Linked DNA regions of Homo sapiens. The protein of the gene in region 1 purifies or fractionates together with the protein of each later gene. This does not show direct contact. Each region holds a gene or a part of one and is shown in the gene's direction. Other genes may lie near its edges. The genes, in order: USP53, BLMH, EXOSC10, U2SURP, YAE1, SPTBN2 and CASP14.

Region 1 (4,341 bases):
TTTTGTTCATTTACAAACATTATTCATAGGGGGCTTCATTAGGCCACCAAAGATGTCCATGATACAAGAAAAGGCTACAAACCATTGCATCTGGCTAAAGAATTATGATTTTACATGAGACTTCAGAAGAGTTGCTTCATATACTCTGCAGTTCATCAGAATTTTTTCTGCAAAATAAACCTTATTCCAATATCTTAGCTATTTTTATGAACAAAATCAGTTATTTGAGGTGTCATGGTATTTTTGAATTAATTTGAAGATAACATTAGTTTTCAATTTTACACATATTACAAAAAAGAAGTTTTAAGAAATACCCTTCCTTTGGAAGTTTTTTACTGCTGCGCTTTTCTGAGTTAGAAGTATTGAATAAACATTATTGACCTCCTATTGTATGCTAGGCATAGTGCTAAACACTAGAAAGTCAAAAGTTAATTAGACAATGTTGGCTGGGTGCTGTGGCTCACGCCTGTAATCCTAGCACTTTGGGAGGCTGAGGCAGGCGGATCACTTGAGGCCAGGAGATTGAGACCACCCTGGCCAACATGGTGAAACCCTATCTGTACTAAAAAATACAAAAATTAGCCAGGCGTGGTGGTGCACACCTGTGGTCCCAGCTACTAAGGAGGCTGAGGCAGGAGAATCACTTGAACCCAAGAGGCGGAGGTTGCAGTTAGCTGAGATTGTGCCGTTGCTCTACATCCTGGGCGACCGAGTGAGACTCTGTCTAAAAAAAAAAAAAAATCATTAAGTAGTTATTTTTCTGAAAACTTATACTTTGGTTGAAAATTTCTAAATCAAGTCTCTGTTGCTGACACTTACTTCAGTCACTTTATCTTTCTTTCTGATCCATTGGCTGTTAACATTTTAACTCATTTTCTCCTTCTCTCCTTTCTAGTCCAGAAAGGTTTTGTAAATGAATATTTACAACAATTCTGTGGTGAAAATCCACTTATAATGTGAAGTATTCCCAAACATTCATTTTATAAATTAGGTTTTTCATATGCTAGATATTCTTAAACTAGGATAGCTCCGTAACAAAATTGCTTATGATTTACTAAGAACAGCTACTAAAATTTTAAAATTAAGAAATTGATATTTCATTGAACAATTTATCTGATCTCATTAATCTGAATTAAAGCAATGGTTAAGTTTAATATATCAGTTTAAGGTATTTCCTTAAAGATAGCAAAATGGAGTATAAAATATATAATACAGCGTCTGCTTTTTTCTAAATCCTTGTTGACATTGTTAAAAATCATTTTACGTGGAAGATAATGTTATTATAATTAGCCTGCATTCGTTGAATGCCTATGTTTTGGCCATTTATTAGGTATTTTATACATGGTTTATGATTCTCACAGTAGCCCTATGATTTTGATTATAGATGATGAAACTGATAGATTTTTAATGATTGAGTAGTTGAGCAATGTGTTGTAAACTTTATATCAGAGGAGGAATAAAATATCTATGGGAATTATAAGGTCACTATCAGGGTATGGATTCCATCCTTGTCAAGAAGCCATCAGGGTATTCTTTGCCCATCAGATACCTCATTCTTTGGCTTTTTCTTAACTCCTCAGCCTGCATAATAAACTGTTGCCCCTCTCATGGTGCCCCTCCCCATACTTAGGTGAGCAGATTGAGCCCTAAATTTTTCCTCCTATATGATGCTACCATATAGGCATGAGATAATGCTCCTCCTTTGTCAGTGTAGTACTGACACTGACCTACCTGCCAGATGGTAGGAAATTGTCCTATACTTTAGTGCCTAGGTTGTCTTTGTTAGGAACACTGTTTTTTCCAAAGGGTTTGTTGTTTGAGATTTTACTTTGTTTCCTGAGCTTCCTTTAATAAATATTTGATGAAAACTTAACCATGCACTGTGTTCTGTTCTAGATGCTTGGGATTTGCTTTACATTCTAAGTGGATTTGGAGAAGAGACAATAAAGAATAAGCAGTCAATTCTATAATATATTTAGAAGGAGAAAAGTGCCAAGGAGGAATGAAAAAGTAGAACAAGGTAAGAGGAATTTGGAAAGCGTGGTAGAGATTGTGATGGTTTGCAATTTTAAATAAGTGTAGGCCTCATTTAAGTGACTTTTTTGGCAAAGCAATTATGAAGGGAGGGAGGGCAAAGCCATGTGGGCGTTATGGGGGGAATGTATTCCAGGCAGGGGAATGGCCAGTGCAAACAATATAGAGAACAGAAGTTTGTATAGTGTGCAGGAATGAGAAGGAGGCTGATGTGGCTGGAATGGGAAAGCCAAAGGTCAAGTAGTTAGATGAGGGGCTGGGCAGATAGTGACATTATGATTTAATTTTAGAAAGATCTCTGTCTGCTCTCCAGAATAGACTTATATGTTACTGTGTAAAGGGTAGAAGCCAGGAGACAAGCTGCTATTTTTTTAATCCACACAAGATGTGATGATGGCCAAGACTAGAATTGTTGAAGTGGAGGTGGTGAAAAGTGGTCAGATCCTGAAATATGACAGAAAAAGGAGTCAAAGATGACATCAAGATATTTGTTCTCAGCAACTGGAAAGATAAAGTTGCCATTGGCTGAGATGGGGAGGAAGGTATAGATAAAGTAAGAGTTCAGTCTGGGGCTTTGTCAAGGCAAATAAATGTTAGGTTATTGCTGGCTTGACATAATTTTCTTCTGGAGATCATGTCTTAAAAGTAGACTGCTGTAAGCCATTTTCTTTAATGACCATGTCCTATATTCTGGATACATGTGTATGCTTGTCTTTTGCTAGTTAGTTACTAGTGGAAACTAGTGAATAGGTAAAAGCAACATGAAATATAGCACGGTTTTTTGTTAGACACAAAGAAATAGAGCAAAAAAGTGGAAACATTGAAAATTACTTAAAACTTACTGTTTTTTTGTTGGCAGTATTATAGTCTTTTTTCTTATTAATTTTATTTTCTGTGTTTTATAAATTTTCTACTGTAGTCTTCTCTAATTCCTCCATTTCTAGAGTGACAATGGTTTTACACATCAAAGAATATTTATTCTTCAATTATACCTTCCTTACTATAATCCTTTAGCTTTATAAACACAGTTACTTCTGTAATGAAAGATATATTTTTTCTTTTTTCTGACACTATCTACTTGAAGATGAAGAGTTTTTTTGTATTACTTCAACTTGGTATAACTCTTCTGTTTGCTATCTAGTTATCTAAAATAAAATCTTAAATACTTCTAGTAAGATGAGCAGTTGTAGCATATCATCAGAAAGTCCTCAGTGTATCTTTGAGGTGCTATATTGTTAGTGAAAAGATGTTAATATGAAGTTTTACTTTACAGTTTGATGGCTAGGACTGTGTACTATTAAGAACATATTTGCAGTGATTCTGTGCTAATATGGAATTATGGATATTTCTAATTTTCTTTATGTAGTATTTCTGTGGTATTTCAGAAATCTAATGAACAAGTACTGTTTGATAATCAAAAAAATCCATACACATAAAAGAACAAAGAGTCTCATGGCTTTATCAACTATTATATTAGTTTCCTAGGGCTGTTGTAACAAAGAACCACAAACTGGGTGGCTTAAATGACAGAAATTTATTCTCTCACAGTTCTGGAACTAGAAGTCCAAAATCCAGGTGTCAGCAGGATTGGTTCCAACTGAGGGCTCTGAATAGAATCTTTCCTTGCCCCTTCCTAACTTCTGGCAGTGGCTGTTCATCTTTGGTGTTCCTTGACTTGCAGCTTCATCCTTCCAGCCTCTGCCTCTGTCATCATTCTCTCTCTTTCTCTTCTTATAATGACTGCTACCAGTCACATTGGATTAGGGTCCACCCCAGTGACCTCATCTTAATCTGATAACATTTTCAAATACCCTGTTGCCAAATACATTGACATTCATAGGTCTGGGACTTGGACATATGTTTTTGGGAGACACAATTCAACCCATAATAGGTATAATGAATCAGGTTTAAGATGCCATTATCATTTACCCAGACCATTCTAGTAGCCTGATAAAGTTATTGGATGTTAGAATTTGAACAAATTCCATATAGTGTCATCCCCTTTTGGGGGAAAACACCTGTTAAATAATTTATATAGCATGGTGAAGATTACCTAACTAATTATGTATTGGGCTTAAGTTTTGGAAGGAGAAAAGATAGTTTGATAGTCTTGTCTAGGGTAATGAAGGAGAGTGGCCCTGGAATCTTGCCTTTTAGGATAAAATTATTGCTGGTAAAGCACTGACTCATAAGAAAACAGCAGTGACTTATTTCCTTTCTTTTCTTTTCTTTCTGTCTCTCTCTCTTTCTCAAAACTTCTGGTTCATTTTAAAGTTCAAATTTAAGTTTTTTATTTTAAAATATTTT
Region 2 (3,962 bases), on another chromosome or scaffold:
TCTCCCTGATGATTAGGAAGCTTGAAATATAAGACAAGTGCCAGTGAGGCTTCTGCTTTCCTTTCTGGGAGCCTTTCTTCAACCTTGAGTTATAGCTGCCAGGTGAAAGATTGGCAGTGACTGAATGAGGCCTTGGTAGTCCAGCTTCTTAGTTCCATGCTGCCAGACAGACCGTCAGAGCAGAACAGATACCTTCATTTTGTCATAACTTTTTTAAAAATGGCAAAAAATAATAGCCACATACAGTTTGTTAGTGAGGTGAAATTCCTCATAGAACAAAGACAACAAAGAATATAAAATGTTTCTAATATGTTAAAATATATTTTATATTCTTTGTATTCTTTAGTCTGAAAGGCTTAAATCTTACATTTCTGGTGGGATTTCAGAAAAAAAAGTTTTCTTAGGTAAAGCGTCTTTTTTCCCTTAAACTAGCCCATTTGAAACTCTTCTGTTTCTGAATGAATTTCACCTAACCTGTCTACAGCTATATTCACAGACACTGTTTTTCCCTTTACAGACTGACCCTACCCTTTCTGTTACAAAATACAGAAACGTTGCCAGTGTTTTTTGGTTGGTTGGTTGGTTTGAGGTGTTTTGTTTTGAGGACTGTTCACTTTTCTTTCTTTCTCATCGCATGTAAACAAGACATTAAAGTTTAAACAAAATTTAATTTCACCTTAGTTCCTAAAGCTGACTTTATCTATTTGTCTGTGTTTCACTCAGTGTAACCTTGGGATCCCTGGAGCAGGTTTTTATTTTGTTTTCTTTTCTTTTTTCCTTGGAATGCTTGTGTCTCACGGCCAGTGTGTCTAAGGGTTAGGAGCTGCACCTTCCCGCAAGTCAAAAGGGCCAGCCGAATCCTGCCTGAGCCGGTGCTTTGCTGCTTCCTACACAGGTTTCAGACACACTGATCCTAATCTTCTCAGTCAAACTCCAAGACACACAGTGTCAACAGTTACGGCAGCCACAAGTTCATTATCTACATAGGGCGCAATTACTTGGCAGCTACCTAGACTGTGAGGTTTTTGTGGGTCCCCAAAGAACTCATATCCTGAAGAGAGAGACTAATCAAGGCGGGTCCTCTTGGCAGGGACATTGAAAGGGTGGGTTACAATTGATAGGAATTTTAATTTGTGAGGACTTAATCTGATATGCTTTTGGAACAAGATAGTGTAGATGTACTTATTGTCCATCTTCTGGGAGCATTCTTTGAAGATTCATTTGATTGTATGGTGATAGTATTGTTGAAAGGACACAGAATTTTATTACATGAATCTGCTTCTATCCTTCACCTGCCTAACTGCCCAGGGCCACTGCAGTGATTTATTCAGCCTGCATTGTGGTGAGGGAAGGGACGACTAATGTCTCAAACAGTGTGGTGTTCCCTAGTCTGCTCTCCTGCTTGCTGAAAGCTCCTTTTTGGGAAGGCAGATGCTTAGTTTTTCAGGAAGCACTCACTTAGGATGCAGTATTTTAGTTTTAAATAATACGCACTGGTTGACCTTTGAGCGGACAGAACTTTTGTTGCTAGAACCTGGTGGCACTGGTGTGGGTGATGTTAATTAAGGGCCAGGTCCTGACACCAACAAAGCCAGGAAGTTTGGAATATATAATCAAGACAAGCCAGAAGTAGCTACAGAGTGGGCCTGTACTGTCCTTCCGTCTCTCGTCTATTGAAAGTAGGGGCCCTGGATCCAGGAGGCCAGCTTATCAGGAGACAAGAGTGCATTCCTTTACCTGCCTTGGTCGGAGCACTTGAACACTTTTACAGAGCACTCCCAACCCCTACCATTCCCACCCCCAAGACAGGGTCTCACTCTGTTTAGGCTAGAGTGCAGTGGTGTGATCTTGGCTCACTGAAACCACAGGCTCAGGCCACCACACCAGCTAATTTTTTTTTTTTTTTTTTTTTTTTTTGTGAGGATGGGGTTTCGCCATGTTGCCCAGGCTGGTCTTGAACAACTGGGCTCAAGCAATCCACCTGCCTCGGCCTCCTAAAGTGCTGAAATTATAGGTGTGAGCCACTGCACCTGGCCTCCACAGTGTTTTTGAGGGTAAACGTATGCTATGCCACGTCAGGATGATCTGTCTTTGACTTCTGTCGGGTGAAAAACAGGATTGGGCATAGATGACTTCACCAAATCAATTGTGTTTTCAGGTTAAATAATGCCCTTTGTCACACCTTTTAGCATACAAAATTAGACTTACCAGTATTGTTGCCTTTAAATTTAATCCAGTCTTGCCTCAAGAGCAGCAGTTCTCAAAGTGTGATCTTTGGTTCCCTAGGGCCCTTTCAGGGAGTGTGCAGGGTCTGCCCTTGAGCAACATATCTGTGTGAGGCTGGATTTCCTTCATCTGCTTCAAGCAGAACAACATACTGCAACAGATTAAACACAGATGCAGATACAGGAATTCAGCTGTCTTCTGCAAATCTAGACATTAAAATGTAAAACAATGCCACTTTTTTAACTAAAAATATTTTTTTACATAATATAATTTTTTTCCTCAAAATATATTGTTTATATTCATTTTTCATACTTATTTTTAAATGAATTAATATTTTTAACTTTCTGTTTTAGTTTCTGATATAGTAAATAATGATAGATATTAGTCCACATAAAGAATGTTTTCGGTCCCTAATAATTTTAAGAATGTAAAGGGCAGGGCTTGAGGCCAAGAGGCTTGAGAACTGCTCACTAGGGGACCCTCTTGCTAGAAACACCTACTTCTCCGTTCTCTTGGTCCTGTGTAGTGGGAAATGGTATAGCACAGGCCTAGGTTTATGAGAACTGCTCACTAGGGGACCCTCTTGCTAGAAACACCTACTTCTCCGTTCTCTTGGTCCTGTGTAGTGGGAAATGGTATAGCACAGGCCTAGGTTTATACAAACTTTCAGAGAAAAATGGCTCCAGTGTTTACTATAAAACAAGTAGCAGATACGGTCAGATGACAGTCGTGGTGCTGATGGCCATTGCTAGTCCGGGAGCCCTTGGATGTGTGTGCCTGCCTTTCTCTTGATTCAGTACACATCGTTTGCTCTGTGTTCTGTCTGTGGCCCAGCAGCCCATTCTTGTTTTAAATATACGGACTTCAGTCTCTCACTTTAATTTTGCTCTTCTTATTAGCAATGGCTCGGGTAAAGCATTTTTTTCCCATTTAAGTTTTTTGGAGATCTGTTCCTGAAAGAACAGATTTGTTTGTTTTTGTTTTTTTAACTTTCAGTAGTTTTTGGGGAACAGGTGGGTTTTGGTTACATGGATAAGTTCTTTAGTGGTGATTTCTGGGACTTTGGTGCACCCAGCACCTAAGCAGTGTACACTGGTATGTTGTCTTTGTTTTATCCCTCCACCCCTCCCACTCTTCCATCCTGAGTGCCCAAAGTCCATTATATCATTCTTATGCCTTTGCATCCTCATAGTTTAGCTCCAACTTATATAAGTGAGAACATATGATATTTGGTTTTCCATTCCTGAGTTACTTCATTTAGAATCATGGCCTCCAGCTCCATCGAAGTTGCTACAAAATACATTATTTTTTTCCTTTTTATGGCCGAGTATAATATTCCATGATGTATAAATATCACATTTTCTTTATCCACTCGTTGGTTGATGGGCACTTAGGTTGGTTCCATGTTTTTGTAGTTGTGAATTGTGCTGCTATAAGCATGCGTGTGCATGTGTCTTTTTCATTTAGTGACCTCTTTTCCTTTGGGTAGATACCCAGTAGAGGGATTGCTGGATCGAATGGTAGATCGTTAGTTCTTTAAGGAATCTCCATACCGTTTTCCTTAGTGGTTGTACTAGTTTATATTCCCACCAGCATTGTAAAAGTGTTCCCTTTTCACCACATCCACACCAACATCTGTAATTTTTTTGCTTTTTAATTATGGCCATTCTTGCAGGAGTAAGGTGGTATCACATTGTGGTTTTAATTTGCATTTCTCTGATAATTAGTGATGTTGA
Region 3 (4,341 bases), on another chromosome or scaffold:
GCTGGGCGTGGTGGCACGCTGTAGTCCCAACTACTTGGGAGGCTGAGGTGGGAGGATTGCTGGAGCATGGGAGGCGGAAGTTGCAGTGAGCCAAGATCACACCACTGCACTACAGATGGGACAGCGGAGACTACCTTCTAATTTCAGTGTTCTAATAAACTAGAGGCAGAGTTAATTTCTGAGCATGAGTGGCCTGCTACCAGTGTACTGCATGACTTTGGTTCTGTTTTCAGGTCTTTCATGGTGCTGATTCAGACATAGAATGGCTACAGAAAGACTTTGGGTTGTATGTAGTAAACATGTTTGATACTCATCAGGCAGCACGCCTTCTTAACCTGGGCAGGCACTCACTCGATCATCTCCTGAAACTCTACTGCAACGTGGACTCAAACAAGCAATATCAGCTGGCTGATTGGAGAATACGGTCAGTTTGCTCTTACTGAGGAAATGTGGGTGGCAGAAGAAAGTGATTATTCATTAACCTGTCGTCCAGAGAGACCTGGGTTTGAGCCCTACCACGCTCATTGAGATGAATGGCATCAGGCTTTTCGCCAGGCATCTTCAGCAGCGTAAAAGTGGTAGGAAATTTTTTAATGCTAAGGTGGACTTTATGATGGGCTGATGCAGTTACACTGTGTTCCATGGAAATAGTGGTTGAAAAAGAGGTGCCGCACCAGTATTTGCCCATGCTGGTCTTTTGTTTGAAACTGGGATCTTTCTACCAGATGATTTTGTGTGTGTGTAAGATCTTCTGTAGGGATGATTGTGTGTGTGTGTGTGTGTGCAAGATGACCTTCCATAGGTGGGAAAGAATTCTAAGGGACACTGTTGTTTAGCTTTACACTGAGCGTTTTTTTGTGGCATAAGGTAGCAGTTTTGCCCCACTTCCTGCAGGCCTTGCTCAGCTTGGTCGTTTTCCGCTTGGTTGCTACCTCTCCGAGGTTGCACCTGTCATAGGAAGGTGCTACTGAGCTTTTTCAGGAATTCCACATGCCAGAATGCCAGAATTTCTTTTTTTCTTTTTTTTTTTTTGAGATGCAGTTTCACTGTTGCCCAGGCTGGAGTGCAATGGCGCGATCTCGGCTCACCACAACCTCTGCCTCCCGGGTTCAAGCAATTCTCCTGCCTCAGCCTCCTGAGTAGCTAGGATTACAGGCGTGCACCACCACGCCCAGCTAATTTTGTATTTCCAGTAGAGACGAGGTTTCTCCATGTTGGTCAGACTGGTCTCAAACTCCTGACCTCAGGTGATCCTCCCGCCTCCGCCTCCCAAAGTGCTGGGATTACAGGCGTGAGCCACCGCGCCTGGCCCAGAATGCCAGAATTTCTAAATATAAAAGTAAAATTACATTTGGACTGATAAAATCCAAATAAAAGATAAAAATTGATAAAATCTAAAAACCACTCCCTGTTACGGAGCCCTTACCCTGTGCCAAGCTCTGGGCTAAGTGCTTCAAGGATGTGGTCCTGTGTAGTCCTCACAACAGCCTATGAAGTACCTGGTTCCCATTTCACAAGTTAGGTGGGTCAGCCCAAAGAGGTTAAGGAACTTGTCCAAGGACAGACATCTGGAGCTGAGATTTGAACTCAGGACACCAGTGGCCCCTTTTCTACTGCCTCTTGTGTGTGTCCAGAGTAGCTGACAGTGCCCTTATTTTAACCACCGCATTACCCTGCCTCCAATTCTACCCAGCTGTTAAAATAATGGTTTATCATGTTAAAATGCAGGAAATGTTGGCATAACTGCAGTATTGACTATGAAAGGATCTTTCATATTGGAAGGGTCTAAGGAAGTCCCAGCACCCAAGGAATAGACAAATTGAATTGCTGTCCTTGGGGGCAATCAGTAAAACATTGTCCTCTGCAATTCCAGCCCTCTGCCCGAGGAGATGCTCAGCTACGCCCGGGATGACACCCATTACCTGCTATATATCTATGACAAAATGAGGCTGGAGATGTGGGAGCGCGGCAACGGGCAGCCGGTGCAGCTGCAGGTGGTGTGGCAACGGAGCAGGGACATCTGCCTCAAGGTACACCTCAGCCGCAGTCACACAGACCGCGACACTTGGGCTCTGTGTCTGGCCAGGTTCTAGTTCTTAGGTTTGCTCCTTACATTCATGAAAAGAGCCAAACATTTTCCAGAGCCCAGGGCACAATTTTGATTCCCGTTGATTTTGAATGTTCTCTAATACTTTGTAGAAATTCATCAAACCTATCTTCACGGATGAGTCCTACCTTGAACTCTATAGGAAGCAGAAGAAGCACCTTAACACACAGCAGTTGACAGCCTTTCAGCTGCTGTTTGCCTGGAGGGATAAAACAGCTCGCAGGGAAGATGAAAGTTACGGGTAAGGGATTAGAGGTTCTTTTAATACTTGTTTCCAGACTGAGGAGATCTAATAACAAGTAAATAATGGGCTTTTTTCTTTTGCTATGAAAGCTGGTTATTTCCCCTATGTGACAGCATCTAATGGAACTTACTGGCTGAATGTAATGTGTCCCCACCGTGTGTGTGTGTGTGTGTGTGTGTGTGTGTGTGTGTGTGTGTTTTTTTTTTTCCAGATATGTACTGCCAAACCACATGATGCTGAAAATAGCTGAAGAACTGCCTAAGTGAGTTTCAAATCTGATTAATATGTTCTGACTTTCTCAGTAGATCTGATGTTCTTCAAAATCAAGCTTTTCTGGTTGCTATTACCCAAGGCTGCTTACTCAGAGATTAATGCTCCAAGCTTGGAAGGTAGCAAGTTGAAGGAATATAGAATTTCTGCCCTCAGGCTGCCATTTAAGCACTAAAACTTCTGAACTGGAATCATTTCAATGATTATGCCTTAGTTTGAGTTTATTTTAAGTCTCTGAGCCTTATAGCATCTACTTGCAAGGGAAGAAAATGTCCCAGATTCTGTCATCTGTACTTTCTTCCAAATTAAAGCAGCTCATGATCTTAAACGTTTTGTGATCTTGATTGAAGTATAAGCAAGAATGAAAATCCACAGCCCGTTGGTTGCCCCCTGCGGAATTGAGAATCCACAGTGCTATGGCACTTACTTTCAGCTCTCCCTGATTGTGGGAGTCAGGCTCCAAGAGGGATCCACTTAAAGCTTGGTGTCGCAAAGAACACATGGAGAAGTTGGCCTAGGCTGGCCTGACATCAGTGTTTCCTTAGTCACCTACCTGTAGCTTCAGCTTAGGTGGCAGCCTGGCTTTACCCAGTCATTATTCTTATCTGGAAGCCTTTAAGGGCTGCGTTTCTGAGTGACAAGTTGAGTGTGTTCTTACTTGTCTTCAGGGAACCTCAGGGCATCATAGCTTGCTGCAACCCAGTACCGCCCCTTGTGCGGCAGCAGATCAACGAAATGCACCTTTTAATCCAGCAGGCCCGAGAGATGCCCCTGCTCAAGGTAAGAAGCTTTTCTGCGGCTGGGCACAGTGGCTCACGCCTATAATCTCAGCACTTTGGGAGGCTGAGGTGGCTGGATCATTTCAGGTCAGGAGTTCGAGACCAGCCTGGCCAACATGGTGAAACCCCGTCTCTACTAAAAATACAAAAAATTAGCCAGGCGTGTGGTGCACGCCTGTAATCCCAGCTACTCCGGAGGCTGAGGCAGGAGAATTGCTTGAATCCGGGAGGCGGAGGTTGCAGTGAGCCGAGATCGCGCCACTGCACTCTAGCCTGGGAGGCAGAGCGAGACTCCGTCTCAAAAAAAAAAAAAAAGATTTTCTACTGAAGGGTCCCAACTTAGCAAGCCTGTTTTTTTTTTGTTTGTTTGTTTTTTGTTTTTTTTAGACGGAGTCTCGCTCTGTCTCCAGGCTGGAGTGCAGTGGCATGATCTCGGCTCACTGCAACCTCCGCCTCCTGGATTCAAGCAGTTCTCCTGACTCAACCTCCTGAGTCGCTGGGATTACAGGCATGCACCACCACGCCTGGCTAATTTTGTATTTTTAGTAGAGGCGGGGTTTCACCATGTTGGCCAGGCTGGTCTCGAACTCCTGACCTCAGGTGATCCACCACCTGGGCCTCCCAAAGTGCTGGGATTACAGGCGTGAGCCATCATGCCCAACTTTAGCAGGCCTGTTTTTTCTGCTAGTGTCTTATTCCTTGTGGCTTCCTAGATTCATGAGCTGGTCTGCATTCTAAACAACCCTAGGGAAATAATAGGGCTTAGGAAATCCAGTGTGTGTGTCTTGATGAATTTAGCTGCTTTTTTTTATGATAGTTGAGAGCTAAGACTCTTTATTTATGACCTTAGCTTTGATGATTCAGCAGCAAGTACTGTCTGGTAACTGGGCCAATTCACTGTTCTAAGGCAGTTAATGTGGTGGAGTGAGATGGAGCGGTGA
Region 4 (4,341 bases), on another chromosome or scaffold:
TTTTATATTTTTAGTACAGACAGGGTTTCACCATGTTGGCCAGGATGGTCTTGATCTCTTGACCTTGTGATCCGCCTACCTTGGCCTCCCAGAGTGCTGGGATTACAGGCATGAGCCACCGCACCCAGCCAGTCTTTTCCTTTACAGAAAAAATTAGCCTGTCGTAATCCCAGGCAGAAGTGTTAAAGTAATAGACTTCCTTCAAAGAAGGGGAGTAAAGAACATGAAAGTTCTTCAGTATCATGGGATGGTAAGACTGGGGTGCTCTTAAAGACGCTTGAAGAAATGCGTATGATTTTAAATTTACTTAATTTGTAAGCTGAAAACATAATTGGAATCTTATTCTACAGAGTATTCTTATATAAATTCTTCAAAAAATTGTAACAATTTTGGGGGACACAACACAAATCAGACTGAATGTATTACAGTCTTCAGAATTATTTTATGTGAGTAGGTTTTAAAGAAATTAGTTTGTGAGCAAAAGCTACAATGGCATTTGAAATTGTATCTAAATATTTATAAGTTAAAACAATTTATGTTCAGACAGAGGGATAAATTGGAAGAAATCTTGCGGGGATTAACTCCAAGGAAAAATGATATTGGAGATGCAATGGTTTTCTGTCTTAATAATGCTGAAGCTGCTGAAGAAATAGTGGATTGCATTACTGAGTCGTTGTCCATCTTAAAGACACCCCTTCCTAAAAAGGTATGGGAATGAATTTTAAGAAAAGGGGAGATAGTTGACGTCTTTTGGGATTAGAATTGGTTTCCTTTTTGCACAAAGCACTTGACTGATGAGATTTTTCCCATGCAGTCTTATGTTATTTCTGCTTGGAAATTTAGGTTCATTAACATACAAGTTAACAAACAAGTTGAAATGTAAATGGGTTAACAAATTTCATCTCTGCCAGAGTCATAGTTGTGGTGATACTGAGCTTCATATAACTCTTCTAATTAGTAGCCATAATTAAATTATAGCTAAACATTAGCCTTATATTAACCTATTTTGTGTTATCTTTTGATATTATAGATTGCCAGATTATATTTGGTTTCTGATGTTTTGTACAACTCTTCAGCCAAAGTTGCTAATGCTTCATATTATAGAAAATTGTAAGTATAATGATATAACTGATATTCCTGAAATAAAGTATTTAAGGGTAAGGAGTTCAGAAAAGAGGATTGTTTTGTTAACATCCTGCAAGAATAAGAAGTACAGTCAGCCCTCCATGTCTGTGGGTTCCTTATCCATGAATTCAACCAACCATGAATTGAAAATATTTGAGAAGAAAAATTGTATCTGTACCGAACCTGTACAGACTTTTTTCCTTGTCATTTTCTAAACAATATAGTATGAAAACTCTACATAGCATTTACATTGTATTAGGTATTGTAAGTAACCTAGAGATGATTTAACAGATGGGAGGATGAGGATAGGTTACAGGTGAATATTATGCCATTTTCAATCAGGAACTTGAGCATCTGTGGATTTTGGTGTCCATGGGAGGTCTTGGAACCAGTCCCCCCATGGATACTGAGGGAAGACTAATTTGAATTTCTTAATGGTTTGTAGAATTTTTTAAAAAATTGGCTTACACTTAAGCTAAATTACCAATTTTTTGGAAAGATTTTATATCATATCACTTTCTTAGCTATTGACAGTATAACAAATAGGTGTTAAAGAGAACTTTATTGCATATCTAGCTATTCATATAATAAATAGAAACAGTGTATATACTGGCAAACATAAGAGACCAAAGACATACTATTAACTATAGAATCTGTGTTCTCTTCTGATCCTCAGCATATTGATTTTAGTTCATTGTAAATGTTTCCTAAGGCAAAAGGAAGTTACGTTGCTGTATTATAATTAATGTATAATTCAGCTGGGCACAGTGGCTCACGCCTGTAATCTCAGCACTTTGGGAGGCCAAGAAGGGCTGATTACCTGAGGTCAGAAGTTCGAGACCACCCTGGCCAACGTGGTGAAACCCCATCTCTAGTAAAAATACAAAGATTAGCTGGGCGTGGTGGTGTGCCTCTGTAATCCCAGCTACTCGGGAAGCTGAGGCAGGAGAATCGCTTGAACCCGGGAGGCGGAGGTTGCAGTGAGCCGAGATGGCACCATTGTCCTCTAGCTTGGGTGACGAGCAAAACTCCATCTCAAAAAAAAAAAAGTATAACTTTTCCTCTGTTCCCCAGAGCTCTCTTTCTGTGTTTATTTTATGAATTAGGCAAAGGGAAGCTTTTCCCTAGGATGTTGCTCTGAAAAGAAATTTAGAGAGCTGGATCCTACTCTTAGGTCTGCTATTAGTTTTTTTGCCTTGGACGAGTCACTTTTCTAAGTTTTCTGTTTTATAAAATAAAGAAATTGGACGAGATGGTTCAGCATATCCTAGATATAACGTTTCTTGCTCGTAAAGGGAACTAGTAGGGACTGTTGGGGAGTTTGTAGGAGAAAAATTCAGAGTAATAAGAGTTCAAGCAATTCAGTTACGGTTTTAGAGTTTAAACACCTAGTTTTTGATTTTTAATAATTTCTTGATTTGTAAGTATTTTAAGTTCAGGAGGGGTTTTCATTGGCTGGCATGCTAAAAGGGAAAGGAATTTTAAACATTTTATTTTAAAGAATGTGTTATTTGAATTTCAGTTTTGAAACAAAGTTATGTCAGATATTTTCAGACCTCAATGCCACCTATCGTACAATTCAAGGCCATTTACAATCTGAAAACTTTAAGGTACGTTTATTGTTTTACTATTTTTGCCCTAGTGTTTTAAATGGGTGGGGGGAGGGCATTGAAGGGCTAGAAAAGTGCATAAGACAAGTATGAGACATAAATTTAAAACTTAGATGTTACAGAAGTTACTGTTTTAAAATTCTGTCGTTTTTGTTTTTATCAAATCAAAAATTTAAAAGATACTATTTTGTCAGGTTTAATTTTAGTTTTAAATATTGTTTAAAAATTATAAATGTTAGTCTTTTTTCATAAAACATACAGAAGAATCACTTGTTTTGTAATGGTATATACTATTTGGCTGGATTAAAGACATACATTTTAATCATGTTTAGAAAGTCTATTCTGTTACCAATTTTTTTATAACCTCTTAAGCTCTAGACCAGTGTTAAGAAAAGCCAAGTGTAGTACTTCACTTATAATTGAATAAGTAAATATGCTTTCATGGGAAGAAGACTTTTTTAAGAAAAATTTTTAGTTTCGGAAGATGCCCAGTGACGCCACCATTTAGGGCATTCAGACAACTCCCATTTTAAAAGTTTTTGACCTTAAATTTTGACCATAAGTTAGAATTTAAAGACAAGTTTCAGGAAGATACAGAGTAAAGTATTAGCCAGAATTAGGAAGTACTTTATTGGACCATAAGGGATTCAGGTCAAAACTTGGCTACTTTGGTTTCCAGTTTTAGTAAGTTTCTATGTAAGTGTTTCTGGAATGTGGCTCATGGGTAGTACTAATGGTATGGGAGCTGACCTTAGGTGGTAAAGAGCAAATAGTTACTGTTTATTTTTCATTATATTTATTTTTAGGGGTTTTTTTCCTTTTAATTAGAAGGTGACATTGATTTTTTTAAAAAATATGGTAATGATATATAGTTATTTTCTTTAAAGTTTAAAAAAACATCAGTTTAAAGGCAAATTTAGCAAATCTTGATGATCATTCTCATGAACTGAAATTTGAGACATATAGCCCAAAATAAAAGTTTGTTGTCTGTTTCCTGTTTCTTTAGCAACGGGTAATGACTTGCTTCAGAGCATGGGAAGATTGGGCAATTTATCCAGAACCATTTTTGATCAAACTACAAAATATTTTCTTAGGACTTGTAAATATTATTGAAGAAAAGGAAACAGAGGTAGGCAGTCTGTATTTGTCTGGTTGTTTTTAAAATTCGTTTCTGGGGTGGAGGTTTCTTGGAGTTGTTCTGTGTTACATATGTGAGGTACATTTCTTTGTGAAAAATATCTATTGCTTACCATTAAGTAGTGGATTTTTATTGCTGGAACCCAGAAGTCAAAATTACATGTAACAGGAATTCTCTGTCTTGTGTCCTTATGTGAAAATTGGTGAGTGTTTTTTTTATTTAATGATATAAGAGTTATGATATATTGTTAATAGTAGAAAATAAGCAAGTAATAGAGCAATATGTATAGCATGACTTTATTTTGTTAAAGATAGCTATATAAGTAAAATATGTGCATGAAAAGATGCATCACATGATAGCAGATATACATCACCATTCTGTTGTTTTTTTTCTTTTTTACCTCCTAAATAATTACTGAATCCTTAATGTTTAATTCTGCCATGCTAGTCAAGCTATTATGTTTTCACT
Region 5 (4,819 bases), on another chromosome or scaffold:
AAACCACCATACTGTCCTTAAATCATATTTCAAACTTACATACCTAGTGCTTTTATGTTCTGAATGTAGAGTCTTCAATTTAATGACAATCTAGACTGAATGCTGTAATATACAAGCAAGTCACAGTTCACTTCAAACCAAAAGAAATAATCAGTCTTCTGTTTTTATCAAAATCATGATATTAAGATAACTATACAATTTATCTGTGACCAGTGATGGACCCAGAGAGTGTTGTGTTATGGCATTCTGTGGAAAGTCTTTGTTCCTTCTTTACTTTTGGCTTCTTCTTCTGAAACATCTTCTTTATCCGCCTCTTGTTCTTCCTCCAGTTTTTTCAAAGGTTGAGCAGATTCTGATAATTTTTTTGAAGGGTATGGCTGTGGTGTGTGCCTTTCTGAAGGACAAAGGCAACCTGCCACAAATATCATACAGAGTCCTAGTAACAGTCCAGAATGCAGAGTTGCTAAAGGAAAAACAGCATATGATCCCCACACTGGCAATCCAATGTCTTCAATAAAGTAGTTATGGCAAGTCCTGATCCACGTAGATAGCTGAAAGAGTGCTGACGTACTACTCATCTGAACAGAACCTGAAACAAACCATGATGAAACGGGTTCAATACTCTTCCACTCTTTATCACTTATAAAGTTTATGAAGTCCTTCTGAGTCCTTGGACCCTGAGGATGCCTAAATTCACCATCTTTACAATGATAAATAGTAGGAAGAACAGTTATTGTAAACTGTCCAGTCAGTCCTGGCTGCTCTGTGACATCTACTTTCACAACATTAACCTCAGATCTTCTCCCCATTCAGCAAAACTTTCCCATTCCGGTTAATGGTTTTGACAAGCAGGGCACCACGGGGCATAAAATTGTATCATCCAGCCTCCTTCCAGCAGCTCTCTCCAGTTCTTGTCTGTGATGATGCGTACGTTGCTCTGCCGCCTGTGGGTCCAGGGAGCACCCCCAAGCAACAGTACCAGGACTGCCAGCGGAACTGCAAGACTCCTGGAGGGTGCCATGTCTGCCGCTTGCCCACCTCACAGCAAGCGTGGCGGCCCAACACTAGGTTTTTTAAAAACTGTGACTATCAGTGTTTTAAAAATTGCCCGGTAACTCTAGACTTCAAAAGTGGGATAAGTAATGATAAACCAATAATAAACTTAGGAGAAGCATAGTCTGCTTTAGTTATATTGTTATGCCATATTATGGTCAGTAACACAGTAAAGGCCTAATTCATCTGCTTTCTAAATTGGTTCTGTACTTTTCTAGAAAAGCCTACATGTATATACTTAGTTACAGCTGCACTTCTCCATTACTTATTTTTAGGAAGGTTATAGAGATGGAATAGATGCTGGCAAAGCAGTTACTCTTCAACAGGGCTTCAATCAAGGTTATAAGAAAGGTGCAGAAGTCATTTTAAACTATGGACGACTCCGAGGAACATTGAGGTAATTTTTAAAGTCTAAATGCTGAATCATTTTAACCTCAATACTACTGGAGGATGTTTCTGTATAAATAAAGTGTTTAAACTGAAATGCTTTTCCTGGTGCTAAATACACTAAAGCGTGTCGCAGATCATAGAATTATATTGCCTTCAAAAAGTCAAAATCTTTATCAGCTCATCTACTTTAATGTGTGAACTACATATTGTCTTTTCGTGCAAAGAAATGGTAAGAAGATGTATACTTCTGCTACCTGAACAATTATCTATCTCATTGAAAGGTCTTCAGATTTTGAATAAAACTTGTAGTACTTCCACACAGTATGACAGACCTCTAGACTAGAAGTACATGATGAAAATAGTTGGTAATTAAGATAAAATTGATTTAATTTACTTTAGTCCTGAACATTGAATACTTGTCAGGATGCCATTGCAATAATGGCATATATCGGAGCCAAATGGTCAAATGATACACAGAGCCAGGAGCCTAGCAGCCTTGTCCAGTTTGATGCTCTATACCAAGCTTGTCCAACCAGTGGCCTGCATATCACATGTGGCCCAGGACGGCTTTGAATATGGCCCAACACAAATTCATAAACTTTCTTAAAACAATATGAGCATTATGAAATTTTTTTCATGATATTTTTTCTTTTTTCTTTTTTTTTTTTTTTTAACTCATCAGCTATCATTAGTGTTAATGTATTTTATGTGTGGCCCAAGACAGTTCTTCCAATGTGGCCCAGGAAAGCCAAAAGATTGGACACCCCTGCTTTATACCCTTTACACTGTCCTTGGTAGAGAAAAAAAAAATGCTTCAAAGAATCGCTAATTTTAAAGAAGAGTAGATGATAAAAGTTACCAAAACAAACCGAAAAATTTATTGTATTTGGGATTTTAGAAAATCCAACTATTAGGAACCAGAATTTAGTCTGCTACAGTAGGAAAACAATGTGAATATTCACATCATCAAGTTGATGTTACATAACCTTAGAAAGCTACTGCTGAATCTTTTATATCAATGGATTCTATTTTTAAATACTTTTCATAATAATCATTATTTTATGACATGACTATAATATTAAATCTGTTAGGACTAGAAGAATTTTTACCTTTTTCAAGGAAATTGTTAGTAGTTCAGCAAACAGTTTCTACTCTGTGACATAAGCCCAGGAAAGTGAAGTCTCTTGAAAACTTCTTTTCTCTAACCTTCATTCTTGATGGCAAGCAACTATGTGCTTAGAACGATGGTTTTCAACTTTGGTTGCACCTTAACTCTGAAACTTAAAAAAAAGATACCCCCTGAGATTCTGATTTAATTGGTGTGGAGTATAATCTGGGCCTTGATAGGGGTCAGAGCTCTTCAGGTGATTCTAATGTGCATCCATGATTGAGAATTGCTAGTTAAGAAGCTGTTTAATGTCCTTAAAGAAGAAACTAATTTTTCTTTCTCGGAGTTGTATTCATCTTCAACAGATATTACATAGTCATAAGAGAAAAATATAAAATCAGGAAAAGCGTATATAGAGTTATGAAAGAGGGGTTATGAATTATAAACAGTTTTATGATTAAGTCCAATCGTTTAATTGTTATTGAAAGATAGTCTTATATTTTTAAGTCCTATTTTGCTATTTAACCCTTGTTTATACTTTTGTTCAGTGCTTTGCTCTCCTGGTGTCACCTTCATAATAATAATTCAACTTTGATCAATAAAATAAACAATCTTCTGGATGCAGTTGGCCAGTGTGAAGAGTATGTGCTCAAACATCTGAAATCAATCACTCCACCGTCCCATGTTGTAGATTTATTGGACTCCATTGAGGATATGGACCTTTGTCATGTAGTTCCAGCTGAGAAAAAGATTGATGAAGCTAAAGATGAAAGACTCTGTGAAAATAATGCTGAGTTTAACAAAAACTGTAGCAAGAGCCATAGTGGGATAGATTGTTCATATGTAGAATGTTGTAGAACACAGGAGCATGCACATTCAGAAAACCCAAGCCCCACATGGATTTTGGAACAGACAGCCAGTTTAGTTAAACAGCTGGGCCTATCAGTAGATGTATTACAACACCTCAAACAACTATAAAATTACCTTCCCTTTTCTAATGAAAATAATGTTCAGAACATTTGGTTTCCTAACAATCGAAATTTGTACTGGTTTCTGCATCAAACACCTCAACTGTAGGGTTACCCTTTATGGAAGTTTGAAATTAACACTATTGTCTTCAAAATTAACACTATTAAATGTAATATAAGCCTTTTTTCTTTGTCACTGGTAATTTTTATGTAGTTTTAAGATATGGTCAGAAATTTCTACTGTCATTGACATTTCCAAACTTGTGGTCAAAATGAAGTGTTTTCAGACTCATTAGCAAAAGTGAACAAGAATTAAACATATTTTGTAAGGACCTACCCCTACTTCTACCTCCTGTCACTATTAGGTGGTCAGGACCTCACCAAACCAAAGTTATAAAAATAACTTAATAGTTAACGTAAATATAGACACACAGACAGATATATAGATATAGATATGTAGATATATATTGAAATTAAGAGACTGTGAGAAACTGAAGCAGTGTTTATGCTGTTGATTAAATGGTTAACAGCAAAATACTAAAATGTGTTTTAGTTTTGTGTTAATTAAAAGTAAGGACATTCAGTTTTATGAAAAACATAGAAAATATATTTTATGCTAAAGTCTAAGGAAAATGCCTACTTAGTTTTTCTAAGTAGTAAGGAGTTAGTAATATTGCCTAACAGTGTGCCAGATTATTTTAAACTGCAGTATATTTCATATTCACATAGGAGTAAAACACTGAAACCACTGACTTCTATATTACCTTGAGGTAATATTCTTAGTCTAGCATGGACAAAATTAGATTCAAATTTTTACTCCAGGATCTAAACTCAGAATCAGGAGAGGATTTCTCAGCACTTTTATTCACCTGAAACACAAGTTTATATGAGATACCTGACTTCAAAGGCACTGAAATAATTGTCCCTCATTGGTAGCCTTAATTGCTCTTTCACCCCTATTTATACCTACCATCTAAGCTGAAAGACAGGCATATTGAGATGAAGAATCTGACAAAGTATATCTTTTCAAGAGATTAAAAATGTACACTGTACTATGACCCTCCTCAAAGTTCACAGAAGAACATTAAGAAATTGAAGCAACAGATTTAAAATCAGAAAGCCATATTGAGTTTCAGGATTTATTAAAACCCCCGCTGAAGATACCAGTGCCATTTGACAGCTGGCTAAAAAAAGCTCTTCGATCTCTCCAGGTGTGAAGACTGTTTTTCAGAGATTTACTAGTTTGTCTTGTTAATATATGTTTCCATGTTTATGGACACAGCCCAAATCTCAACTCCAC
Region 6 (4,341 bases), on another chromosome or scaffold:
AGCACCTTGAAACGCCTTTGCTGGGGGTGGAGGGAGTCTGTCAAATACAGGGTCAGTGGGAAGCAGCTGCACCTACTCCTTAACCACAGGGAAGAAACCTGTCCCGGCCCCCATGCAGCGGGGAGAGGTGGGTTCTGAGTTTGGAGTGGAGGACTCGCTCCATCAGGCAGGGACCACATCCCCTAACATCACGGCATGGTCTGTCCATCTGCTTCCTCTACCAGATGCTCCGAGACAAATTCCGAGAGTTCTCCCGGGACACAAGCACCATCGGTCAGGAGCGCGTAGATAGCGCCAATGCGCTGGCCAATGGGCTCATTGCTGGGGGCCATGCTGCACGGGCCACCGTGGCCGAGTGGAAGGACAGTCTCAACGAGGCCTGGGCTGACCTGCTTGAGCTGCTGGACACACGGGGTCAGGTGCTGGCCGCGGCGTACGAGCTGCAGCGCTTCCTGCACGGGGCACGCCAAGCCCTGGCGCGGGTGCAGCACAAGCAGCAGCAGCTTCCGGACGGGACTGGCCGCGACCTCAACGCTGCCGAGGCCCTGCAGCGCCGACACTGTGCCTACGAGCATGACATTCAGGCCCTCAGCCCCCAGGTCTGACCCAAGCATGAGGAGGTGGGGGAGGCTTAGAGGAGGCCATGGGGGAAATGCCGGGGAGAGTTCCCAGGAGCTAGGGTAGAGCTCAGAAATGCTGGGAGGACGGCACTCTTTCGAGGGCCATTTCGAGATGAGGAAATTGCTCCAAGAAAACATCTCTGTTTGGCCAGGCGCGGTGGCTCTCGCCTGTAATCCCAGCACTTTGGGAGGCCGAGGAGGGCGGATCATCTGAGATTGGGAGTTCGAGACCAGCCTGACCAACATGGAGAAACCCCTTCTCTACTAAAAATACAAAATTAGCCAGGCATGGTGGCGCATGCCTGTAATCCTAGCTACTCAGGAGGCTGAGGCAGGAGAATCACTTGAACCCAGGAGGCGGAGGTTGCAGTGAGCTGAGATCCCTCCACTGCACTCCAGCCTGGGCAACAAGAGCGAAACTCCGTCTCAAAAAGAAAGAAAACATCTCTGGCAGGGGACATCTAGCCACTGCATTCACACTTTTGATGACAAGCCCCCTTGAGAGCCCATGATGTCTTCAGGGGTTCCCAGTGGCCAGGAGACTCTTCATGCTGCGCTAAATCAGCCTGTTAGTGCTTCCCAGGCTTGAGCTCTAGGCTCACACTCAGTAAGCATGGATCCTTCCTTCAACCACTAGAACCCATCAGCCCCTGCCTGAATCCCCTTTTCAGGCTAAGTAGCACGTTCTAGCAATCTCCAAGGTCTATCACATCCTAGACAGGCCTCTGAAAGTTCAACTGGCCAATGGCTCTTTTCCAGATCCTCCCCCAGTTAAGCCCAGGTGTCTAGATGAGACCCAACAGGGCAGAGTGTGGCCAGCCCCTGCCTTCATCTTTCCCAGCACCCCCACTCCCTGGCTCCTCCCCCTGCTTCTTTGGCTGTGAGACAGGCAGGAGGTGAGAGTGGCAGCCAGGACTGAGGCAGGCTGCGGCTCCTTGGAGTCCCCCGCTCTGCCTGACTCTGACCCGGGGCTCCGCAGGTCCAGCAGGTGCAGGACGACGGCCACCGGCTCCAGAAGGCCTACGCTGGAGACAAGGCTGAGGAGATCGGCCGCCACATGCAGGCCGTGGCCGAGGCCTGGGCCCAGCTTCAGGGAAGCTCTGCCGCCCGCCGGCAGCTGCTGCTGGACACCACAGACAAGTTCCGCTTCTTCAAGGCTGTCCGGGAACTGATGCTCTGGATGGATGAGGTCAACCTGCAGATGGATGCCCAGGAGCGTCCCCGGTGAGAATCCCAGGGCTCAGGGCCTCCACGGGTTGTGTGGCTGGGCTGTGATGGGGCTGTGGGCAGCAGGTGATGCTGTTTCTGCCTCCCCCCAGGGATGTGTCCTCCGCGGATCTAGTCATCAAGAACCAGCAAGGCATCAAGGCAGAGATAGAGGCCCGGGCAGACCGCTTCTCCTCCTGCATCGACATGGGGAAGGAGCTGCTGGCCAGGAGCCACTATGCGGCCGAGGAGGTGGGTGAGGCCTGGGTGGCCGGGCCATTCTCACTGTGCAGTGCTGAACGCTGACTTCTTGGTGGCTTTCTGCTTCCTCTCATTCTCTCTTTGCAAGAAACCTTTCATTCTCTCCCCTCAGTGCCATTCACGGGTTTCTCGCATTCTGGAAATCTCTCCCCAGAACCGTCTGCCTCTTGACATCAGAAATCACTGGTCCTGGGCCAGGCATGGTGGCTCACGCCTGTAATCCCAGCACTTTGGGAGGCCCAGGCGGGCAGATCACCTGAGGTCACGAGTTCGAGACCAGCCTGGCCTCCATGGGTTGTGTGGCTGGGCTGTGATGAAACATGGTGAAACCCCGTTTCCACTAAAAACACAAAAATTAGCCGGGCGTGGTGGCGGGCACCTGTAATCCCAGCTACTCGGAGGCTGAGGCAGGAGAATTGCTTGAACCTGGGAGGTGGAGGTTGCAGTGAGCTGAGATTGCGCCACTGCATTCCAGCCTTGGTGATAAGAGCGAAACTCCGTCTCAAAAAAAAGAAAGAAAGAAAGAAATCACCTGTCCCCCTGGATGACTCCCCAGGGGCCGTGGAAAGATCTCACATCCTGGTGCTAACTCATATCTCTGCCCCCCGCCCCCAGATCTCAGAGAAGCTGTCTCAGCTGCAGGCACGGCGCCAGGAGACAGCTGAGAAGTGGCAGGAGAAGATGGACTGGCTTCAGCTGGGTGAGCTGCCAAGGGGGCCCCAGGCCCTGTGGGGAGTGGGGGGCATCCTGCACCCTGTGGGTTCCAGAGTAGGTGAGACTAGGAACCCTGGGTGTGAAACTCACGATGCCCAATCTTCGTGCTGCCTGGCACAGCTCTGGGGCAGTGGCTTTCTCTGTGTCCCTGTTCTTGAGGTTGCCATGGCCACTGTGCCCTGCCAGTGGCCACTCTGACCCACCATCTTCCTGCAACCCCCGATCCTGCCAGTTTTGGAGGTGCTTGTGTTTGGAAGAGATGCAGGGATGGCAGAGGCCTGGCTCTGCAGCCAGGAGCCACTGGTGCGCAGCGCTGAGCTGGGTTGCACGGTCGACGAAGTTGAGAGCCTCATCAAGCGGCACGAGGCCTTCCAGAAGTCAGCAGTGGCCTGGGAGGAGCGATTCTGTGCGCTGGAGAAGCTTACTGCGGTGAGGGACACAGGACCCCGGATGCCCACTCCAACCTGCTCCCCTGACCTGTGCTGGCTTCTGCTTGGAGAAGACATGTCTTCTCTCTTCCCACTGCACCAGTGGCCCCCAGATGTGAGCTGAGAGTGCCATTGTCACCACACCTTTAGGAGGTGTCAGTTCCCCTGGGTGATGCCGAGACACCTTCTCCCGCTTTGTTTCTTGTCCCCACCATCTTCTCAAATTCTGTTCTCCTCTTATCATATTTCATCAAATTAGAGTTGAGACATTTCAGCTCTCCCTGTTTCCCTGGCCCTCTTACACGCAACCTTCTACACGCTGAATGCAGCATTTTTTGACAGCTAGAGGAGCGGGAGAAGGAGCGAAAGAGAAAGAGGGAGGAGGAGGAGCGGCGGAAACAGCCGCCTGCTCCCGAACCCACAGCCAGTGTGCCTCCAGGGGACCTGGTGGGCGGCCAGACAGCTTCTGACACCACCTGGGACGGGTGAGAGCCAGGATGCCTGGGTAGGAGGAGGCGGCTGAGCCCAGGCCACCCAGGGACTAATGATTCTGTGTTGCCTTTGGTCATCCCAGAACCCAGCCACGGCCACCACCATCCACACAAGCACCCAGTGTTAATGGAGTCTGCACAGATGGAGAGCCCTCACAGGTGACCCCACTGTCCCTCTGTGCCCCCATCGGAGTCGTAGCCCCTCCACCCCCGCACATCCTTTTACAGATTCTTGTCCTTGCAGCCCCTGCTGGGACAACAGAGACTTGAGCACAGCAGCTTCCCCGAAGGGCCGGTGAGTTCCCCTGCAAGTGTGGTGTTGATAACTGTGAGGCGAAGGGTCCAGAGGGGGTGGTGAGTGCGGGTGGGGGAGTACTGGGGATGGGATGGGAGAGGGCAGAGGCTCACAGGCAGCTTGGGGGCAGGAAGACCAACTCCTGGACACGGAGCTTCCTGGCACCCAGGTTAGGGATCTCCCGTCTCAACCTTTGACACTGACACTGATTCCCCCCCAGGGACCTGGCTCAGGGGACGAAGCCAATGGGCCCCGGGGAGAGAGGCAGACCCGGACTCGGGGCCCGGCCCCATCTGCAATGCCCCAGAGCAGGTCTACCGAGTCAG
Region 7 (3,998 bases), on another chromosome or scaffold:
AGCTGGTGAATGACCCACGGGAGACACAGGAAGTTTTTGGGGGCGGAGTGGGGGACATTGTGGGGTAGGCTCAGCAGTTCTGAAGAAGACATCCAGAAATGGAAGACATCGTGAAATTGTCATTCTAGGGGTGATATATTACTACTTCATGGATTATCATCTATTGCCCAGATCTGTCCACAGACCAAATCCCCACCACTTGAGTGCTATTTGGTCTCAAAAATCCAGATACATAAGCCAGTTTGTCCCCTGAGCCCCTCGGCCTCCCTTTAGAGAACTTTAACCTATCTTCTCTTGACTCCAAGGATCAGACAAGGGTGCTGAGAGCCGGGACTCACAACCAAAGGAGAAATGAGCAATCCGCGGTCTTTGGAAGAGGTAGGCTGGGTGCAGGTTGAGGGGAGGGTGATCATCTGGGGAGAAGGAAGGTGAGGATTTTAATGTTTTGGAAAGAGTGGAGGGACTGAAAAAATCATGATCTGAACTCAGAGCTAGGAGGTACTTTGTAGTCAATCAAACAGCAAAAAAAGACTCAGAGATGGAACCGAAGTTGGGTTGGGTGGTGGGGGCAGTCAAACACAGCTACCTCTGTCTCCAAAGATCAAGTTCTTCTCAACACATTAAAGGTTCTGAGAAGTCCTGCAATAAACAATTTCATGTTGATTTTTTAAAAGATGAAGTTCTTACCACTGGGGTGCTCAGTACGCTGCTTCTGTTCTGGAAAGAACTGTTGACCCCCAATATTCTTCTTCCTCAGACGGGATCTCAGTATTAGCTTCAGAAACTCTGAGACCTCTGCAAGTGAGGAGGTAATAGAGGAATGCTCAGAACACTCTTGGGGAGGATGAGGAGACCTGCAAATCCACAAAATACGACAACTGGAAGGGATCTTCAAAATCACACACACACTCATTGTCTATATTTGGAAACTGAGGCTCAGATGGGAGCAGTGACTTCCCCCAAGTTCATACCAAGCTAGAAAAGAGCTGGACCCCAGGTTGGGTTGCTGTATTTGGGAACTAAAAATAAAGGACACCCAATTCAATTTGAATTTCACATCAACAACAAATAATTATGTAGTATAAGTATATCCCATGCAATATTTGGGATATACTTATACTAAAAAGGTATTTGGTTTTTATTTGAAATTTAAGTGTACCTGAGCATCTTCTATTATACCTGGCAACCCTAAGCCCAAGCCTCTCTTGTTTTGTTTGTTCATTTTTGAGACAGGGTCTCACTTATTGCCCAGGCTGGAGTGCAGTGACAAGATCATAGTTCACTGCAGCCTCAACTTCCCAGGCTCAAGCTATCCTCCCACTTCAGCCTCCAAAGTAGCTGGGACCACAGATGCACAGCAGCACACCCAGCTATATTTTTCATTTTTTGTAGAGACAGAGTCTCACTATGTTGCCCAGGCTGGTCTCGAACTCTTGGGCTCAAGCAATCCTCCCACCTCGGCCTCCCAAAGTGCTGGGATCACAGGCATGAGCCACCACACCCAGCCTGCATGCCTCTTTTGACTACATCTGCTTCTCCTTGAACCTCTCCATGCTGATTTCTGTCTTCTCTTGGCCCCAGGAGAAATATGATATGTCAGGTGCCCGCCTGGCCCTAATACTGTGTGTCACCAAAGCCCGGGAAGGTTCCGAAGAAGACCTGGATGCTCTGGAACACATGTTTCGGCAGCTGAGATTCGAAAGCACCATGAAAAGAGACCCCACTGCCGAGGTATTGGGGTGCCTACTCCAGGCCTGTTTGGGGGAAAGGTACTAGGTTGGAAGTGTAGGCTATGGGGACCCAGCTGAGTCTGGTTCTTCCTCTCACTCCAGCAATTCCAGGAAGAGCTGGAAAAATTCCAGCAGGCCATCGATTCCCGGGAAGATCCCGTCAGTTGTGCCTTCGTGGTACTCATGGCTCACGGGAGGGAAGGCTTCCTCAAGGGAGAAGATGGGGAGATGGTCAAGCTGGAGAATCTCTTCGAGGCCCTGAACAACAAGAACTGCCAGGCCCTGCGAGCTAAGCCCAAGGTGTACATCATACAGGCCTGTCGAGGAGGTGGGGACAGATCCAAGAGCACAGAGTCTGTGGTTTGTTGTTTCTGTTTTGTTTTTTGAGACAGCACCCAGGCTGGAATGCAGTGGCGGAATCTCAACTCACTGCAATCTCCATCTCCCAGGCTCCAGCCGTCCTCCTGCCTCAGCCTCCTGAGTAGCTGAGACTACAGGCTCCCGCCACTATGTCAGGCTAATTTTTGTAGACAGGGTCTGATTATGTTGCCCAGGCTGGTCTCAAACTCCTGAGCTCAAGCAATCCTCCTGCCTCAGCCTCCCACCATGCCCAACCAAGTCTGTGTTTTTATCCAAGCCAGTCCCAGATCCAAAGCCCCAGCTGAAGCCAGGCACCATGGCTCATGCCTGTAATTCCAGTACTTTGGGAGGCCCAGGCGGGAAGATTTTTTGAGGCCAGGAGTTCAAGACTAGCGTCGAGCAATGTAACAAGAACCCAGCTCTATGAAAAATATTAAAGATTAGCCAAGGGCATGGTGGCATGGGCCTGTGGTCCTAGCTACTCAGGAGGCTGAAGTAGGAGGATCACTTGAGCCCAGGAGTTAAGAGGCTGCAGTGAGCTATGATTACACCATTGCACTCCAGCCTGGGCAACAAAGCAAGCCCCTGTCTCTAAAAAGTTAAATTAAATTAAAAAGCCCCACTGCACATGGCATACCACAAAAGCATCCTTTTTTTTTTTTTTTTTTTAGACGGAGTCTTGCTCTGTCACCCAGGCTGGAGTGCGATGGCACAATCTTGGCTCACTGCAACCCCCACCTCCCAGGTTCAAGCAATTCTTCTGCCTCAGCCTCCCAAGTAGCTGGGATTACAGGTGCAAGCCACCATGCCTGGCTAATTTTTGTATTTTTAGTAGAGATGGGATTTGACCATGTTGGTCAGGCTGGTCTCAAACTCCTGACCTCAGGTGATCTGCCTTCCTCAGCCTCCCAAAGTGCTGGGATTACAGGTGTGAGCCACCGTGCCCAGCCCTTACCTTTCTTTTTAAGAGGCGACATCTCGCTCTGTCTCCCAGGCTAGAGTGTAGTGGTGCAATCATGGCTCACTGCAGCCTCAAGCTCCCAGGTTCAAGTGATCCTCCTGCTTCAGCCCCCCAAAACACTGGGAATACAGGTGTGAGCCACCCTGCCCAGCCCCTTTCCTTACCTTTCTCTCTGACTTTGCCTCCTCCTCTTCTTGTTGTTTCAGAACAAAGGGACCCCGGTGAAACAGTAGGTGGAGATGAGATTGTGATGGTCATCAAAGACAGCCCACAAACCATCCCAACATACACAGATGCCTTGCACGTTTATTCCACGGTAGAGGGTATGAGCTCCCAGCTGGCCCAGGGATCCCTCTGCTCTTCCCCCTCTCCTGCCACTCCCAACTCCTGAACCTCTCCTCCAGGACCCACGCCCTTCCAGGATCCCCTCTACCTACCCTCTGAAGCTCCCCCGAACCCACCTCTCTGGAATTCCCAGGATACATCGCCTACCGACATGATCAGAAAGGCTCATGCTTTATCCAGACCCTGGTGGATGTGTTCACGAAGAGGAAAGGACATATCTTGGAACTTCTGACAGAGGTGAGTTGACAAAAGGTAGCTGGGACCACCGCCCAGGCCAAGAAGGGTGCAGGCGGAGGGGGCTGAGCCTCCTCCTAACCCCTCTCCATTTCCCTCAGCTCCAAATCCAAGCCAGATCTCAATACAGAAACTAAGAAGCCCACTTTCCAACAACTTTCCCAAATGCAGGGACTCTTAAAAGCCACAGTATGGGAGATAAATTTCTATAAACAAATCCCCCTTGGATATAAACAATGTTTGGGCAAACTGTTTTCTTTTAATGTTTATATGTTTTTATTGCAAATTATTTAAAAAATGCCCAGCCAAGGATTCCATACAAACTATGGTATAGGAAGAGGCCACAACGGTCTCTCATCTTAGGACAA

What was found.
Region 2: the proteins of USP53 (region 1) and BLMH purify together in Homo sapiens (affinity purification with mass spectrometry; one large-scale study listed by BioGRID and IntAct). This does not show direct contact.
Region 3: the proteins of USP53 (region 1) and EXOSC10 purify together in Homo sapiens (affinity purification with mass spectrometry, with the first as the bait; one study listed by BioGRID). This does not show direct contact.
Region 4: the proteins of USP53 (region 1) and U2SURP purify together in Homo sapiens (affinity purification with mass spectrometry, with the first as the bait; one study listed by BioGRID). This does not show direct contact.
Region 5: the proteins of USP53 (region 1) and YAE1 purify together in Homo sapiens (affinity purification with mass spectrometry; one large-scale study listed by BioGRID and IntAct). This does not show direct contact.
Region 6: the proteins of USP53 (region 1) and SPTBN2 purify together in Homo sapiens (affinity purification with mass spectrometry, with the first as the bait; one study listed by BioGRID). This does not show direct contact.
Region 7: the proteins of USP53 (region 1) and CASP14 purify together in Homo sapiens (affinity purification with mass spectrometry; one large-scale study listed by BioGRID and IntAct). This does not show direct contact.

The regions. Positions count from the first base shown.
Region 1 is NC_000004.12:119,215,654-119,219,994, forward strand, and holds part of USP53 (ubiquitin carboxyl-terminal hydrolase 53), read left to right. Parts: intron 1-1,896; 5' UTR 1,897-2,020; intron 2,021-4,341. UniProt on the Homo sapiens protein: Deubiquitinase that mediates 'Lys-63'-linked deubiquitination of tight junction proteins, such as MARVELD2 and LSR, and which is involved in the survival of auditory hair cells and hearing.
Region 2 is NC_000017.11:30,250,489-30,254,450, reverse strand, and holds part of BLMH (bleomycin hydrolase), read left to right. Parts: intron 1-2,217; exon of another isoform or gene 2,218-2,377; intron 2,378-3,962. UniProt on the Homo sapiens protein: The normal physiological role of BLM hydrolase is unknown, but it catalyzes the inactivation of the antitumor drug BLM (a glycopeptide) by hydrolyzing the carboxamide bond of its B-aminoalaninamide moiety thus protecting normal and malignant cells from BLM toxicity.
Region 3 is NC_000001.11:11,078,771-11,083,111, reverse strand, and holds part of EXOSC10 (exosome complex component 10), read left to right. Parts: intron 1-233; coding exon 234-424; intron 425-453; exon of another isoform or gene 454-578; intron 579-1,873; coding exon 1,874-2,030; intron 2,031-2,199; coding exon 2,200-2,348; intron 2,349-2,562; coding exon 2,563-2,613; intron 2,614-3,289; coding exon 3,290-3,401; intron 3,402-4,341. UniProt on the Homo sapiens protein: Catalytic component of the RNA exosome complex which has 3'->5' exoribonuclease activity and participates in a multitude of cellular RNA processing and degradation events.
Region 4 is NC_000003.12:143,032,241-143,036,581, forward strand, and holds part of U2SURP (U2 snRNP-associated SURP motif-containing protein), read left to right. Parts: intron 1-543; coding exon 544-706; intron 707-1,030; coding exon 1,031-1,110; intron 1,111-2,647; coding exon 2,648-2,735; intron 2,736-3,741; coding exon 3,742-3,864; intron 3,865-4,341.
Region 5 is NC_000007.14:39,569,178-39,573,996, forward strand, and holds the end of YAE1 (protein YAE1 homolog), read left to right. Parts: intron 1-1,328; coding exon 1,329-1,450; intron 1,451-3,099; coding exon 3,100-3,529; 3' UTR 3,530-3,704; downstream 3,705-4,819. UniProt on the Homo sapiens protein: The complex LTO1:YAE1 functions as a target specific adapter that probably recruits apo-ABCE1 to the cytosolic iron-sulfur protein assembly (CIA) complex machinery. May be required for biogenesis of the large ribosomal subunit and initiation of translation.
Region 6 is NC_000011.10:66,687,542-66,691,882, reverse strand, and holds part of SPTBN2 (spectrin beta chain, non-erythrocytic 2), read left to right. Parts: intron 1-224; coding exon 225-599; intron 600-1,599; coding exon 1,600-1,844; intron 1,845-1,939; coding exon 1,940-2,078; intron 2,079-2,702; coding exon 2,703-2,787; intron 2,788-3,033; coding exon 3,034-3,230; intron 3,231-3,571; coding exon 3,572-3,714; intron 3,715-3,803; coding exon 3,804-3,879; intron 3,880-3,964; coding exon 3,965-4,015; intron 4,016-4,235; coding exon 4,236-4,341. UniProt on the Homo sapiens protein: Probably plays an important role in neuronal membrane skeleton.
Region 7 is NC_000019.10:15,051,901-15,055,898, forward strand, and holds part of CASP14 (caspase-14 precursor), read left to right. Parts: intron 1-305; 5' UTR 306-351; coding exon 352-378; intron 379-1,581; coding exon 1,582-1,731; intron 1,732-1,832; coding exon 1,833-2,058; intron 2,059-3,257; coding exon 3,258-3,374; intron 3,375-3,455; coding exon of another isoform or gene 3,456-3,529; coding exon 3,530-3,633; intron 3,634-3,998. UniProt on the Homo sapiens protein: Non-apoptotic caspase involved in epidermal differentiation. Is the predominant caspase in epidermal stratum corneum. Seems to play a role in keratinocyte differentiation and is required for cornification.